2 separate regions of the Homo sapiens genome follow, and region 2 is linked to region 1. The links come from fine-mapping of genetic effects on gene expression. A gene starts in region 1. The other region holds a variant in brackets. All regions are shown on one strand. Distances are from middle to middle.

Region 1 (4,314 bases):
CAATTGTGCACTGCAGCTCTATTCGTTATTGTCAAAATCTGGAAACCGACCAAATATTCATGGACGAACAAGAAAAGCTAAGTACGGTACGATTCCATTTGCATGAAGTATAAAAAGACGCAAAACTAATCTCTGGTGATAAGAGAGACTAGCAGTTACTTGTGGGGGAAGGGAGTGGGCGTTGACTGGGAGGGGGCCACAGCGGGGAACCTCTGGGGAGCTGGAAATGGTCTAGGTCTTGAACTCAAACCATGGCAGGAACATTTACACCACAGAAATTATCAAACACAAATCAACCCCCGGCTCCCCACCGTCGCCAATGGAGCCGAGGCTTAAGACATTTGCAAATTTACCACCGATTTCTAGAAATGTAAATAGTGGAGTTCATTTAAGATTTGTGCGCTTTGGTGTGGACGTTTTACCCTAGTAAACGTTAAACACTGGCAGTAGGCTTTCCATAGACTACCTGTCACCAGCTTTCCTTTGCCAGTCTTCAACCTGCGGCTCCAGGGGCACCCGCCGCACTCCACCGACTCCCATCCACCGCTCACCATCCACCGATTCCCATCTCTTCATTCTCTGCACCAGGTGCCCTCAGACATCACTGGGCGCCCTAGGGCATCTCAAAGCCATGTTTGGAACTCCTGCAGGAAGCCCTCCCTCCTCCTCCTCCTTCCTTCCATCCAGGGGTCTTCTCGGGGCTTATCCCTTCAAGGCCTAACCTTGACCCACCCTATCTACGCAACATTGATTCCCACCCCTACCCTATTCCCCAGAACCTTCAGCAGTGCCTAGCGCAGCTAGGACTCAATCATCGCTTGTCCACTTAATGAATGACTCTTGGCACAAATTTCCTCGTCCTTTTCTGCCCCAGACAGACACCCCACAAACATGAAGTTACCCTTGATTTTTCCACTTTCTTCCTCCTGCCTGCAAATTCCTCAATCACAGGTGGTGCAAATCCTACCTCTAAATGGTACTGAATCTGCCTACTTTCGGGGCAACCTCCCTTACCTGGACCACAACTGCACCAGCCTCCTTTCTCCCTCAGGAGCTTCCCAATCCATTATCTCCCCTGCGGCCAGAGATCAGTTTCCTCCTGGGGTGCATTTAAGCCATAGGAAGCAGATCGCTACCCTAGGCCCGTCCCTCCCCACCCCTTGGTCTGGACACCCTCTGGGCTCATCTTAGGCCGCAGTCGCCGAAGCCTTCCTCCTCCGGTTGGACCCCCAACCAGGTCAGGCTGTCATAGCGTTTATCATGACGCTGGCGTGTCGCCCTGTGTCCCTCGGCCGTCTGCAGGATGGCAAACTTATGGCCAGGGCCCAGCACATTTGGGCACCCAACACATCCGTTAGAATGAACAGAAACTTCCCCTCTCCGAGCCTGTGGCCTCATCTGTAAAACAGAGATCGCGAGATCCCATGAATACCGTGGGGATTGAATAAGGGATTTTTTCGTTTCAAGCAGCAGGAACAGCGCGGGATGGGTGCTCAATAAATGGGAGCTCAAAAAATCCCCAAAACTGCCCAGAGCCGCGGCTATTCCTTGCAAACTGCTGGACACTGCTGGGCTCAGCCCACAAGTGTCGGAGTTTGCATCAGATTTTCAGGTCGTACTTAGCAAAGGGACTCCCGCACGACAAAGCTGTTTACGAAACAGAAACCAGAACTGGGGCAGTGACACTTTGGGGCCAGCAATGCCCTCTCCCAAAGCCCCAGGCGCCCAATTTCCGCCGAAATGCTTTCCGGGGTCGAAGGGCGCCGGGGCTCCAGAGTGCCGAGGTTCCGGGGTCGCGCGATTCCGCAGCTCCCAGGCGCCGACCCGGACCCCCGGCCGCGGCACCTACGCCCCGCCCCAGTCGCTCCACGCCAAAGCCCATTGGTCGGCAACCTGTCCCTCCTGCTCATGTGATGCGGCACGTGACGCAGCCACGTAAGGCCGCTGCGCTCACGTGACGCGGTCCCGGAAGTTGACCGGGGTGCGGAGCTCCTGGGCTGCAGCTCCTGGAGTTTCCGAGGTTCGTGCGCGTCTGGTGGCGGCGGCGTGATGTTCTCGGCAGGAGCGGAGAGTTTGCTCCACCAGGCCAGGTACGGGGGAGCTGCGGCCCCGGCCCTCCTTCCTGCATCTCTCCCTAGGGGCACACGGGGGTGGGTCTCACAGGGCAGGGGCTTGGGCGCCAGCCTTGCAGGAACCCGACTGGACTCGCCCTCGAGACTTGGGGATCGGGTAAGGCAACACGGCGGCCAGGCTTGGGGTGAGGAGGTCGGGGAGGGTCATGGTGGGTCCCCGGAGGAGGTGACACTTGAGCAGAGTCTTGGTGAGTGAAAGCAAGTGGGGTGGGACCCAGTCGACAGTTTAGTCAAAGGCTTGGCGGTGAGAACTCCGCGTCTGGCAGGAAATCGGGCAGCCGGGAGATTTCAGTGCCTCACAGTCAAGAACGCAAAGTCACAGTGTCCGGAGGCCTGCTAAGGAATAAGGCTGTGTGCCAGGCTGGGGAGCTGGAGGCCATCCGAGGGCTTTGCGGAACCGTGGGAGGGTTTTGTGACTTAAAAAGATCTCTCTTGCGCGGATGTATTAGCTAGGCTGAGAAATCACCCTCCAGGCTGGTTTCAGGCTGTGTCTGGACTCCCAGTAACGAGTGAGTAGCTCCTTCCTCACCAACTAACCAGTCATGGGGGAAAACAGTGTAAGCCAGGACTGAACAGACTCACGGTCCACCAAACAGGCAAAGACTTCATACTACATGTTTAAAAGAAGAAAATGCTGACCGGGCGTGGTGGCTCACGCCTGTAATCCCACCACTTTGGGAGGCCAAGGCAGGCGGATCACCTGAGGTCAGGAGTTCGAGACCAGCGTGCCCAACATGAGGAAACCACGTCTCTACTGAAAATACAAAAAAAAAAAAAAAAAAAAAAATTAGCCGGGCGTGGTGGTGGGTGACTGTAATCCCAGCTACTCGGGAGGCTGAGGCAGGAGGATTGCTTGAACCTGTGAGGTGGAGGTTACAGTGAGCTGAGATGGCGCCACTGCACTCCAGGCTGGGGGACAGAGCGAAACTCCGTCTCAAAAGAAAAAAGAAAAAAAGTAAAGAAAATACAGCCAGCACTACAGCCCCTTGGTAAACGTAAACAAACTTGGTGAGGTGAGAGGCCGAAGCAGGAGAAGTGCATGAACCCAGGAGGCCGAGGGTGCAGTGAGCCAAGATCGCACCACTGGACTCCAGTCTGGGTGACAGAACGAGACTCCATGTCAAAACAAACAAGCAAACCTGGACTCAGAGCTAGACCAATTGGTGGGAAAGATTCGGGTGGTTGAAATTGCTGTGATTATAGTGAGTGAGGTCTTGAAGGCAGGTTAAGTTCTAAAGCCCGAACAGGACAAAAATCTCTGATCAAAATAACCCTTAAGAGTCCACTCATTAGGAAGAGGCTTGGTGAATATGCAGCACCATCTCCCAGCAGCTCAACATAGGCAACCTTCCCTTCAATCCTGGACAGATATGTCATTCATGTGAATGTGGGGACTATATGAAAATGAAAAATACTGGCATCTCAGCATGTAACATGTTAATCCCAAGGTCCTTGCCAAGAGACAAGGAAAAACACCCACTGAGAACTTCATTCCCAGTCACATTCTGCTCAAGGTCATAAACTTGTGACATGAAAAACAAAAGGAAGAGCCCTCTTTATTTATTTATTTATTTATTTATTTATTTATTTTTATTAGAGTCTCTTTTGAGACAGAGTCTCCCTCTGTCGCCCAGGCTGGAGTACAATGGCGCAATCTCAGTTCACTGCAACCTCCGCCTCCTGGGTTCAAGCAATTCTCCTGCCTCAGCCTCCCAAGTAGCTGGGATTACAGGCGCCCGCCACCACACCCGGCTGATTTTTTGTATCTTTAGTAGAGATGGGATTTCACCACATTGTCCAGGCTGGTCTCGAATTCCTGACCTCAGGTGATCCGCCTGACTCGGCCCCTCGAAGTGCCGGGATTACAGGTGTGAGCCACCATACCCGGCTGAGCCCTCACTATTTAAATACCTGTTTCTCTGCCTCCCTGGCTCGGGTGGGCAGCCGTTTTTGAGGATAGAGTGTGGTTGAATTTCCCTATGTAACATACATGAGTTCTGCAGTTGCCCTCTGTTAGGGTTTCAAGAAGGTTAATCTATTAGGGCTTACCAGTTTTCACAATATTCTTAAGCCTGTGATTTCTGATGATATTTTAAAATAAATGACTGTAGTTTGAGGGTTAAGGTTTGGAGCCGGCCAGGCGCAGTGACTGGCCCACGCCTGTAATCCGAACACTTCGGGA
Region 2 (4,382 bases), 48 kb after region 1:
GGCTCCTCACTTCCGCAGCACAGCAGCACAGTCCTGCTGCCCCGTCTGGCTCCATTCCAGGCCCCACACAGTCCTTAGCAGACACATGAGCCGAAATCCTACCCCGGCTTCCGGGCCCGGCCCCATGCCACCTTCCTCTCGAAGCCCCCTAGACTGCCCCGATGGAATCCCTCTCCCTTAGTATTTTCAGAACACTTCCTACTGCATTTCAGAAATCCTGAAATGGTGGCCAGGCACGGTGGCTCATGCCTGTAATCCCAGCACTTTGGGAGGCTGAGGTGGGGCGGATCAGGAGTTTGAGACCAGCCTGGCAAACATGGTGAAACCCCATCTCTACCAAAAATACAAAAACTAGCCGGGCGAGGTGGCATGCTCCTGTAATCCCAGGTACTCGGGAGGCTGAGGCACGAGAATCGCTTGAACCTGGGAGACGGAGCTTGCAGTGAGCCAAGATCGCACCATTGCACTCCAGCCTGGGTGACAGAGCGAGACTCCGTCTCAAAAAAAGAAAAAGAAATCCCGAAATGTGTATTTCCCACATCTTAATCTGTGAAACCGACATAATCTACAATTTCACAACAATGACTGGCAACATCTGTCCTTCTGGAATAACGGTGTGTCTCAGAACGGGCGGCGGTCTCATGGCCGACGCTCTCTCTACCGCCCCTTACATTTGGTTCACGGTGGCATCTGTGTCTCCCCTACTGAGTGATCTGTGTACCCCCCGGGCCCTCCTGCAAGCAGAAGAGTGGGGCTGCGGTCAAGGGGACGCCACCGCACGGAGCACACGGGATGATGGGGACAGACTGAGTGCCAAGGTGCTGTGGGGGGAGGTGCCAGACTGGCCCGTGCCACCAGCACCAGCCTCACAGGCCGTCCCCGAGCAACTGACACATGGCAGCCTAGGGACTGAGGAAGCCCCCGGCATGAATCCACCCCTGCTATCATGGCCAACTAGGTTCCGAGGACGGCGAGGAGATGCCACACTCCCCTGCCTGGGGTGCTGGCGGGGGGAATGGAGGGCAGCGCCAGCCGTACCTGTGATGTCCAGCTGCTCCTCCATGCTCTGCATGTAGAGTGGGCATTTCTGCTGGATAAAGTACAGGAGCTCGATGGAGTTAGACATCCAGAAAAGAATGGGCTGCAAGTCTGGAACCAGATCAGCCATGGCGCAGCTGGCCAGCGAGATGGGCTCCTGGCTACCAAGACAGAAAGACTAAGAGTTACGCGGGGACCCGACCCTCAGGAGGCTGAATCTACCACTCTTTCTACATAAGGATGCGCGTTTTCATGGGACGCTGACAACAACTGCAACCATCAACCTGACACTGCTGGGCGGGGACGTTTAACAATACGTGTACCCGCCTGGCACCTGCCTACAACACCCGACAGCCAGAGGACCCTACAAACCTAGCAGGAAGACAGCTGGGCGCCACAGCCATTGGTAAAAAACCTCGGTAAGTAGATGGCTTGCATGTCTTCTCTTTTGGAATGAGATCATAAAGTGGCTGTGAATGCTGAGAGAATGTGTGCCAATATGTGTGTGTGTGCGTGTATGCGTGCATGGGGGTGGGGGCTGGTCCATGGTTTTCAGAACAAGAAATGTCAGTTCCATTATATTATTTAAGTTAACAAGGTAATTACCAAAGGAAATAAACAATAATAGAGCTATTTTGGGAGGTGCACAAAGGCAAAATGAAATGCTACTTTATTAAAGCAGGAAGTCAGAAAATCACGTGTAAAGTCCATGAATCGCGGGGTAGCAGGCAAAGCATGAGATTTGAAGACTCAGAGGCAATCGTTAGAAACCCAAACTGAGGCCAGGCGTGGTGGCTCACGCCTGTAATCTCAGCACTTTGGAAGGCCAAGGCGGGTGGATCACCTGAGGTCAGGAGTTCGAGACCAGCCTGGCCAACATGGCAAAACGCCGTCTCTACTAAAAATACAAACATTAGTCTGGCTAATTATTAAAAAC[CT/C]TTTTTTTTTTTTTTTTTTTTAGAGACAGGGTCTTGCTATGTTGCCCAGGCTGCTCTTGAACTCCTAGCCTTAAGCAATCCTCTTGCTTTGGCCTCCTAAAGTGCTGGGATTATAGGCATGAGCCACCATGCCTAGCCCTGATTCTGTATCCATGGGGTTCATTGTTACTCTGAGTAACAAAAGCAGAAGTAGCTCAGGCCCCTGCCTGGCCAGCCCAATGCAGGTAGGGGTTGGGGGGGCGCCCTTCCCTCCCAGGCCTGCTGCCTTCCGGCTCAGTGCTCCCTTTTCAGGGGATGACGGCATCATCAGGGCTGCCTCCTCCCTCAGCGGCAGCCTCCACCGTCAGGCTGGCTTCCAAGCTCAGAGCTCCCAAACCCTTTCTCCCACATCTCTGGCACCAGCCGCAGGATGTGTCTGTCTGGTGTGACTTGACACTGCCTTCTAGTGTCCTCAGCAGCCTCTTGGAACGTCTGAGGGGTGGACGTGGCAAGGCTGTGCTGAGGTGCCCGGGTAATTCCTCATTTAAAATGCCAGCCACACATCTTTCTCACAGGTTGCTCATCTGGTCCATGCACCAGCTCAGCATTAAGCCACTGGACAAGATGCCTGGGACGCCCCAGGGTCCTGGCAGCTCAGAGGATGCATTCATCCCTAAGTCTCCATAATCGCACCTGGCGGACACAAATAGCCGTGTGCCCCTGAGCAGTGAGCAGAAGGCCGTGTGTGCCCCTGAGCAGTGAGCAGAAGGGATCCTTTTGCAAACAGATCAAATCACACAGATCTGACTTGGGTCTGCCTGGGGTGTGGAGGGCGGCCCTGCTGCCTGCCCCATGGCTGGCCCGGGTACCCCTTGTCACCTGTGTCCCTTACTGGGGGGATTCTAAGGGGTGAGCCAGGCAGCTGCCACTCTGCTGGCCGCAGGGCATGGTGCCAGCCCAGTGCCTGACCCCAGTCCCGGGGCAGAGCCAGGCTCAAGGCTGGACGGCCGTCAGAGTGACCATCGCGTGCTCAGTCCCAGGTGTGTGGACCCGGCCTGGGGTCCTTTGAAAGGTGCCAAGCCCACAGGAAATGCCACCAGGACCTTAAGGCAGCCGGTTTGTGAGGGCATCTGGGAAGGGCTGAGGCCCTGTTTTCCTCCCTGTTCTTTCCCCAGCTGGGCAGCCGAGCAGGGCTGGGGGAGGAACCCCAGGCTGCGTCCCAGATTCTCCCCGGTACCCAAAGTGTTGCCTGCTCTCTCTGACGTCACTTCACTTTTGTCCACAAACAATGTTGACCTCTCTCGCGTGCACACACCCGGGGAGGGAAGAAACTGGACTGAGACCATCTCTCCTGTTTTTGGCGGCTAAGCAGGTCCGCTGCCTGCTCATGTGTCTGGCACAGCTCAAAGTCCTGCTCCTTTTTGCCCATTCTGGACACTGGCTTGAAGGACACGCATGTCTGCAGATGGGCAGAAGGAGCTTTTTATACAGTTAAAGAAGGATTCGCTGGGCTCTTCGGAGACTAATTCCATCTTGTTTTCAAAATTTGCTGCCCTTCTCAATTTCACCGGAACCCGGAGGGTAGACAGGCCTGTCCCAGGAAACAAGTGACCAGGCTTTGCAACTGGAGTTTCGGGATCAGACTCGGGCCAGGTTGGCACTGAACGCGCCCCCACCTGCCAACCTGGGGCCATGTGAGTGGGGGCCCAGGGAATGATGAAGATCCAGCCCATCCTACCCAGGCCTGTGTGGACGGAGGAGCAGGTCTGGTGGAAAAGGAAAACCCATGTTGTTCTAGAAGAGGGCAGAGGGGAAGGGCACTCGGGGGGGGACAGCACAGCCTGGCAGGAGGAACAGGCGTAGCTGGCTGGGGCAGTTCTAGAAGAGGGCAGAGGGGAAGGGCACTCAGCAGGGGCAGCACGGCCCGGCAGGAGGAACGGGCGCAGCTGGCTGAGGCAGGCTGGTCAAGGCGCGGGTATCTCCTGCGGGTGGAGGGAAGCACTGGAGTCCCACTCCTGGGAACCAAGGCGATGGAAACACTCGCAGGGCCCACAAGGAGCACAGAGACCAGAGCATGGGCTGCCGGCCACAGCCTATGCATGCCTGTCGCGTCCATCAGGAGAGGACCAGGGAATGGCGTGCCCCAAAAAATGGGTCAGCCACATCCACCCACCTGGAGAGGTTGTGAGTGAGAAAGCAAACCACAGACAGCTCAGCCAGCGCCATCACACCCAGGAAGAAAGGAAGAAAGAAAGAAAAAAGGAAAGAGAGAGAGAAAGAAAAAAGCCGGGTGCGGTGGCTCACGCCTGTAATCCCAGCACTTTGGGAGGGCGAGGTGGGCAGATTACAAAGGTCAGGAGTTCAAGACCAGCCTGACCAACATGGTGAAACCCCGTCTCTATTAAAAATACAAAAATTAGCTGGGCG

Alleles and levels. Alleles are on the strand shown, and positions count from the first base shown. SD is a standard deviation of normalised expression in the study named.
With allele CT in place of C in region 2, the expression in subcutaneous fat of the gene that starts at base 1,957 in region 1 is higher (small effect, 0.37 SD a copy in TwinsUK).

What was found. PIP is the estimated chance that this variant, and not a neighbour inherited with it, causes the effect. A credible set is the group of variants that fine-mapping cannot tell apart.
Region 2: its variant is the best candidate, but not a certain one, in a credible set for the expression of AP5Z1 in subcutaneous fat (TwinsUK, PIP 0.66).

The regions. Positions count from the first base shown.
Region 1 is chr7:4,773,667-4,777,980 of GRCh38, forward strand. AP5Z1 (adaptor related protein complex 5 subunit zeta 1) reads left to right here and starts at 1,957. Exons shown (of 17, transcript NM_014855.3): 1 at 1,957-2,090. The coding sequence starts at 2,050. RefSeq lists enhancers at 699-1,375, 1,376-2,052, 1,426-1,475, 1,516-1,605, 2,036-2,105 and 2 more and a silencer at 1,786-1,915.
Region 2 is chr7:4,821,356-4,825,737 of GRCh38, forward strand. It overlaps RADIL (Rap associating with DIL domain), which reads right to left. Exons shown (of 15, transcript NM_018059.5): 6 at 1,039-1,199. Among named protein-coding and RNA genes, the nearest start is that of SNORD165, 14 kb to the right of the region's middle. The variant CT/C (reference allele first, on the strand shown) is at 1,976.